2 linked regions of the Homo sapiens genome follow. The protein of the gene in region 1 purifies or fractionates together with the protein of each later gene. This does not show direct contact. Each region holds a gene or a part of one and is shown in the gene's direction. Other genes may lie near its edges.

Evidence for each region.
Region 2: the proteins of CPEB4 (region 1) and NBEAL2 purify together in Homo sapiens (tandem affinity purification; one large-scale study listed by IntAct). This does not show direct contact.

Annotation. Positions count from the first base shown.
Region 1 is NC_000005.10:173,950,849-173,954,348, forward strand, and holds part of CPEB4 (cytoplasmic polyadenylation element-binding protein 4), read left to right. Parts: intron 1-975; coding exon 976-1,090; intron 1,091-2,242; coding exon 2,243-2,424; intron 2,425-3,500. UniProt on the Homo sapiens protein: Sequence-specific RNA-binding protein that binds to the cytoplasmic polyadenylation element (CPE), an uridine-rich sequence element (consensus sequence 5'-UUUUUAU-3') within the mRNA 3'-UTR.
Region 2 is NC_000003.12:46,989,437-46,993,462, forward strand, and holds part of NBEAL2 (neurobeachin-like protein 2), read left to right. Parts: intron 1-74; coding exon 75-157; intron 158-232; exon of another isoform or gene 233-1,456; coding exon of another isoform or gene 1,457-1,472; intron 1,473-1,782; coding exon 1,783-1,868; intron 1,869-1,969; coding exon 1,970-2,252; intron 2,253-2,403; coding exon 2,404-2,510; intron 2,511-3,038; coding exon 3,039-3,119; intron 3,120-4,026. UniProt on the Homo sapiens protein: Probably involved in thrombopoiesis. Plays a role in the development or secretion of alpha-granules, that contain several growth factors important for platelet biogenesis.

The DNA of each region.
Region 1 (3,500 bases):
TTTTCTTTCTGGAAAAGTTTATCATAAAATTTAGTCTTTAGGAAGAGGAGCAACTGGCATGTTTTGATGACTCTGGCAAAGCAGCAGTTTATTATCACTCAGCCAGCACCCAGTGAATGATGATAGTGCAGAATGGAGTTGTCAGTGGGCCCAGCTTAAGCAAATAACATCTGTGGAGCTTCTCCTGAAGTCTTGTGGTTGTCTAGGTCAGAAACTTTCGAAGAGTTCCTGTGGTCTGGACTCTTTCTGCTTGACTTGTTTATGTTCCCTGCCAATCCCCATCCGTATTTGAATTTGGGACCTCTGACCTAGGACTCTGTTGGTGTGCATATTTGGGAATACACTGCTGTCAACCCATAGCCTTTGGTGTGGGCATTTGTGACAGTTAGAAAATGTGAACAGTTTTAAATGAGGTACATGATTCTTGATTGACTTATCTAATGGATACACTGAAGTATTTGTCATAAAAAAAAATCTATTGCAAATATCATCAGTATTTTTACTTTGAAAACCATTTTGAAATAATGCATCAGATTTGATAGTATCAGGAGTAGTTTGCATTTCCTAGACATACACTGATTGGACACACAATTCTTGTTTACTTAGTATTGTATATTGATTGGCATTGGATACCATGCTAAAAATTTAAATTATGTAGATATTGAGGCATTGGACAGACTAAAGGCCCAAATAAGCTGAAAAACAGTGAATTAACTTACAAATAATTGTGGACATGTTAAGTAATTTGGCTTATAATAGACAATCAAATTGAACTTTCCACCTTGGTTTAGTTTACTTCTAAAAATGAAACGATGGGTTGGGATACACTGTTTTTAAATCTTCTAGTTTCCCAGCTTTATTGACTTGTAATCATAGGATTATTGCTTTTAAAAATACTTTGTAATAATTGTTAACTTTTTTGCCCATGAATTGTCTGTATTGAGAATGAGACATTTTGGTTTGTACATTCCCTAGGTCCAGATTCGGCCTTGGAATCTCAGTGACAGTGACTTTGTGATGGATGGTTCACAGCCACTTGACCCACGAAAAACTATATTTGTTGGTGGTGTTCCTCGACCATTACGAGCTGGTATGATTAAACAAACGACAAACTCTCTACCCTATAGCGCAAGAAATATGAAGATCTTCAGGATAAATTTTTCCTAAGAATTGGAGTTAATATCCAAGAGTGAGAGTTCTAGAATCAAAATATCTGGGTTTGAATTCATGTGTTCTAATAGTTAAGTGACCTTGGACAAATTCCATGACTTTTCTAATTCCCAGTTTCCCCATCTGTCAAGTAGGGATGAAAAGCGTTTCATCCCTAGGATGAAATAACACCAGAAAAAGTATTTCCTAGTGTTATTTTGAGGGTTGAATTAGACGACCAGTGCAAAGTACTTAGTCTAGTGTTGCATAATGCTAATTATTACGCTCATCATTGTCTGAAAAGAAAAAAAGTCCTTCAAGAATAGATTCTGTATTGAGATTGTCAGTATTTGTTTCCCACATCCTCATTTGCTCAACAGCGACTGACTGAGCTCTGGGATATAATAGACTTCCCAGCAATGCATCAGATTTTTAGGGTAGTACTTACAGAACAAATTAAATTCCTAACTTCAAGTAATTTGAGGTTTAATAATATACATGAGATAAAAAGACATAACATGAACAGGAATGTAGCTGCACGATTTTAACACTTCATAAAGAAGAAAATGCAGTCATTATTTCAAGGTTTTTTTAAATGAAAAATTGGTGAACTGACTGTGGGGAAAGAGTTTTGATGGAAATAAGCCAGGAGGGCCCACAAAGAGTCTACCAGTTAGTTTTCTAGTGTTCAAGTAATTATTACATTAATCAATACATTATTAACTGGTAAATCTATGGCAGCAACATGGCACAGAGCAGGCAAACATGGGAGTACTATCACTTAATGACCTGTGACCTTGGACAGATGGATCACCCTTTCAGCACCTCAATTTCCTCAGGAAATTACTACCTACTTCATATAGTTGTGAGAAGAATAAAGAGAACATACTAGAAAACACCTAGCAACCCCTTGCCCACAATTAAAAGATTAAGGCTTAACACAATGGATGACTGGTTGTAGTAATGTTTCATTTTAATAATTATTATAATGATGTGAGCTCAGAGTACAGATGAATTGCTTTTGATGAAACGGTTGGTGAGCCAGATGAATTTTCCTGATTTTAAATATCCTCCTTGTTCCTTTCTTAATTAGTGGAGCTTGCGATGATAATGGATCGGCTATATGGAGGTGTGTGCTACGCTGGGATTGATACCGACCCTGAGCTAAAATACCCAAAAGGAGCTGGGAGAGTTGCGTTCTCTAATCAACAGAGTTACATAGCTGCTATCAGTGCCCGCTTTGTTCAGCTGCAGCATGGAGAGATAGATAAACGGGTAAGCCTTATACTACATTTTGGAAAATTCTAGAAATGGTCCTCTAAATGTGTGATTACCAATATTAGAACGGGAGCATTTTATGACAATAAAGTGACAGCTGACAATTTTGCCTATAGAGTTAATTATGGTCTATAATACATGAAATAATGTCCTATGAATTTCTTTTATCTTTCAGTTTTTTGAGTAGCCTAATCAGAACACTACAATTTACTTGAGTTAATTTAATCTTCTCTAACTTCCATTCAATCTCAATCCATCCGTCCATTCATTCACTTAGTTTGTAAGTCATTCAATAAATATTTACTGAATCCTTTGTTCTGTGTTATATCAAGTATACAAACAGGAATGCCCTTGAGGTTTCCTGCCCTTTTTTTTGTTTGTTTTTTAATCCTGGGACATAGGGAAGACCTCAGCAAGCCCTATTTCTCAATGAATTGTACTCACAGATTTCTTTTTTTTTTTTTTCTTTTTCCACAGCCGCCACCTCTCACCGATTTATTCCTTAGCTTGGTGTTTCATGTATTCAACAAACGTTTTAGTGCTTAGGGCAAGAAGTTCCTGTCCTCATGAGTTTATTTCCTAGCAGATAGAACTGTATCACTTGCCAGTACTACTCAGAGTGTGGCCTGTGGACTGACCTCCAGTCTGTAAACTTAGTTTGTAGTGAGATAGGAATTTAGACCAGAATGTGTAATCAACCACATTACTGGGCACAATGTTTGGTCCAGCTGGCGATTTTTTTTTCATAGAAAGCCTTTATTGATGAGGGAAGCAATATATTGATTTATATTTTGGGGTCACCTTTTTATTTCATGGCACACTGGCACTTTCATGCATGCTGACTTTGATATCCATCACTCTGAGGCATTGTGCTAAAATAGATTGATTTTATCGTGTTGTTCTCAATTCAAGATGTAAAAATCATCAAGTCAGTAGCAGTTTTTGCTTTTTATGTTTCATGTCATGTACAGTCTACTTCACTGGCAGTAAAAAAATTTAAGATAGTGGTGGTCATCCTACAAACTGTGAATCTATTAAAGAGAAAAGTATCTGTTCTATTCTAAGCATGGGGG
Region 2 (4,026 bases), on another chromosome or scaffold:
CGCTGGGCCCAAGGAGGGGTGACGGCCAGGAGTGGTGAGAGCCGGGCTGATGTACTTGGCCTCACTGCCCCCAGGGAAGTCATCAGCTCCAAGGAGAAGAGCAAATACAAGTTCCCTCCTGCTGCTTTGCCCCAGGAATTCAGCGCCTTCTTCCAAGGTCAGGCCCCGCCCCTGCCCCCACTTGGCTCCACCCCCAAACCTAGGCCCCTTCCTGTCGTTCCTTGATCCTGCCATACACAGGAACCACTTGGTGGTGGCTGCATGCAGGACTGGGAGAACCAAAGACCAAGCAAGAGTTTAGGGACAGAGACAAGAGAAGACATCTTGGGCTGGAGCGAGGGCCTCCCATCAGGTGGAGGGGTGGGGTCAACCTGCCTACCCAGATTTCTCATCCTCTTTCCCCGCCATCTCCTGGATCCTTCTAGCCACTTGTACCCTACTGTGATCTTAAAACTCTCTGGTCCAATCCCTTTGTCCCCATAGCCTCCACGCATCTCCACCCATCCCGGAGACACAGGAGGTATCTCCACCTCCTGTTCCCTGGCTGCTGGAGGATCTGGTGCCCAGGACAGCTGTGGCTGCCTGTTCACAGGTGGTCCTGTGAACCTGTTCTCCCTGGTGACCCTCCACCCCTGGGTCCCCTCTCTCCTCTCATTGGAGGGAGACTGGCCAGGACTTTAGATAGGCTCAGGGTGGGATATGGCCTGGACAGAGGTGGGCAGGGCTGTGAAAAGGTGGTGACCTATTGGGATATTAAATGTCTCAGTGATGCCCCCATGGAGCTGTGGGCCTGGATCTAGAGTTGGGGCAGCAACTCCAGGAGGGGAGGCACCCCTAGGGAGCTCCTCGACTTTATTTTCCCATAGCCTGGGTGCTGTTATTAAAACAAACTGGATTTCATTTCTCCTCCCATCATATCCCTTGATGTCAACCTGACGTCCTCAAGATGAAATCCTACTCCTCCCACAGCCTTTCTCTCCACTTGCCCTGCTGCTCAGCCTGGCTTCTGTCCTCTCATTCCCAGACTGCTACCACTGACCCCACCTCAGGGTCTTAGCCCATGCTGTGCCTTCTCCCCTCCAACTGCATTCTCAGGTCTCCCCTCAAAAGCCCCATCCCCAAGGAGGCCTCCCACCCATCCAGCCGGAATCAAGCCCCAGCCCTACTCTTCCTCCTCTGCCAGGCATGTGACCCGGGGCTAGTCCCTTCTGCCCTCTGAGTTTCAGTCCCTGGCCTGGCATCCTGTCCAGTTTTGCTGGCGCAGGGCCAGGTGGGCCTCCTACGTATTAGGTTGTGAAAGCCCCTAGAAGTCCCAGGCAAAGGCATGGGCGTGGGGGGAGGTGGCATCAGTATAGTAGATACAGCAGAGTCCCCAGAGCACGGCATGGGAAGCACCAACCGTCACAGGGCAGAGGCAGCAAGAGATTTGCATCTGAGAAACTAAGCCCTGGTCATCATGGGGAAGTGGAAGGGTATGTGCTCATGCTGGGGCCCTCACTTTGGGGCTTAAGGATCTGGGAAGCTGGCTAGACTCTCAGGGCTGGTCTTTGTCACCCTTAAGTCCCCCAAAGAAGGGTTGTCCCTTTCAGGCCCTCTACTATACAGCCATAACTCCTTAGATGCCCCCCAGGGCAGAGCCAGCTCTTATCCCTCACACTGGATCTTTTACTTGGCCCAGCTCCCTCTCCCCTCCACCCCAGGGCACTCACCTCTTGTGCAGCCCCCTGGGTCCATAGCCCTGCAACCTTGGTGACATTACCCTGCCCACACCCCCCTACCCAGAGAGCCTACAGAATGCAGACCACTTGCCTCCCATACTGCTGTTACGTCTCATCCACCTCTTCTGCGCCGTCCTCGCTGGAGGAAAGGTAGGCTGGGAGGTGAGCCTGTGGACTAGAGAGCAGCTCTTTCAGTATCTCTCTGCTGGGTGAGCCCCTTGCCCACTGCCCATCTCTGTCCACACCTGCAGGAGAACGGGCAGATGGCTGTAAGTGATGGCTCTGTGAAGGGCCTGCTGAGTGTGGTGCGGGGCTGGAGCCGTGGGCCAGCCCCGGACCCGTGCCTAGTGCCACTGGCTCTAGAGGCACTGGTAGGTGCAGTCCATGTCTTGCATGCCAGCCGCGCACCTCCTCGTGGCCCAGAGCTTCGTGCCCTGCTTGAGAGCTACTTCCATGTCCTTAATGCTGACTGGCCAGCTGGTCTGAGCTCAGGCCCCGAAGAGGCCCTTGTCACCCTCCGGGTCAGCATGCTCGGTGGGTATGGGCTCCCAGGCTCTTGGGGAAGGGGCACCATGAGGGAAAAGCCTAAGTGATGATGGAAGGTCTGGATAGGGCAGCATAGGAAGGAAGGCTTAAGGCTGCCTAGAGGGGTCTGGGCAGGGCCTGACCCTTGACCCTTCCACAGACGCCATCCCCATGATGCTGGCATGTGAAGACCGGCCAGTGCTGCAAGCCACCTTCCTCAGCAACAATTGCTTTGAACACCTCACTCGGCTCATTCAGAACAGCAAGGTGGGTAGGGCCCAGCCTGGGGGTGAGGGTCTGGAAGCCAGAGGCTAGGGGAGCCACGCATAGGTGCCAGGCTGCTGCTGAGCAAACATGGGCTGGACAGAGTCAGTGTTTTGCAGCTGGTGGGATGGCTTGCAGTTCAGTGGGAGGGTGTGGGGCATGGACAAGGGCCCATCCCTTGGGGCCTCTATAGGACTGGGCTTGAGGCTTAGGACATCTTTGTGCCCCATGGAAGCGGGGCTTGTTATGGAAGGAAGGGAGCTGCTCTGGTGCCTTGTTTCCCTTTCCGTGGCCCCAAGTACAGGGGCTAGAGGAGGGCACCACTGCTTTCAGATGCAGTGCCTGCTCCCACCCGCTCATCCCCCCGACTGCCCATCTGAGCAGGGCACAGGGGGCTCAGCACCCTACTCTTCCCTAGTGCCGGGCAGGGCACCTGGCAGCTGCCCCTGGTCCTGCTCTAACCCCACCCTCTCCCATCTTCCTCCTCTCTTCTTTGCCTCCTCCACCCTGTGCCTCCCCACTTCCCCACAGCTGTACCTGCAGTCCCGGGCGCCCCCCGAGGGGGACAGTGACCTGGCTACCCGGTTACTGACTGAGCCCGATGTCCAAAAGGTACCATCCTGGGGCTGACCAGCTCAGACACCCCCTGGGACTCCCTCTTTGAGCTTTTCCTGCACTATAGCTGGGGAAATGAGCAGATGTGTGTAAGGCCTGGTGTGGTCTAGAAATGGGTGTGGGTCCTCCATGCTGTCTCGCCTGCCTTCCAAGTCCCCATCCTAGGGAACAGGACAGAAGGTGGTCTATCCCCTGCCTGGTGTTTGATTGGGTGTTGGGGGTCTGGCTGTGCCAAGCTGGATGGAACCTTCGAAACTCAGCCACCTACCTCATTTCTCAGAAGGGGAGACAGAAGCCCAGACACTCAAGGATTTGGCTATAGTCACAGAGAAAGGGGTCTCCCTCATGGTGCCATTTCTTTCTGTAGATTCTTGCACCCACCCTCAGCGGGTCACTGGGTGTCCCCCAGCCCCTGATGATGTGATCCCTGATTCACCTTGCATGTGGGCTGTAGGAGGCTGCAGGGTGTCAGCTGGCAGCTTCACAGCGGGCACCCTTTCTGGGGGCTCAACCTGTGGGCCCCAACCTCCATAGCCCCTACCCTGGCTCTGTCTTCATGAGGTAACCCTATGTGTTCACCGCATGTGGTCATTTTCTTAGAGCTTACACGTCTATTCATCTGCAAAGCAGGCAGGGCAAAGTGACTCCCCTCTGTTTTTACAGATGAGGACACTGAGGCCTGGAGGGGGAGGACTGATGCCTTAGGTCACTTGGGGAGTCAGGCAAAGCTGGGACCAAAGGCCCCATGGAGCCGAATATGACCTAGTCCCTGCTGAGAAACTCTCCAAGCCCTCCCAACCCCTGACCCCCTCAGGGTGGGGCAGGAGAGGCAGCAGCATGCCTCTGGCTGTCAGGTTCAGCCAGGCTGAGCCTCAGTGCCCCCACCTGGATCTAGGGGGAAGGG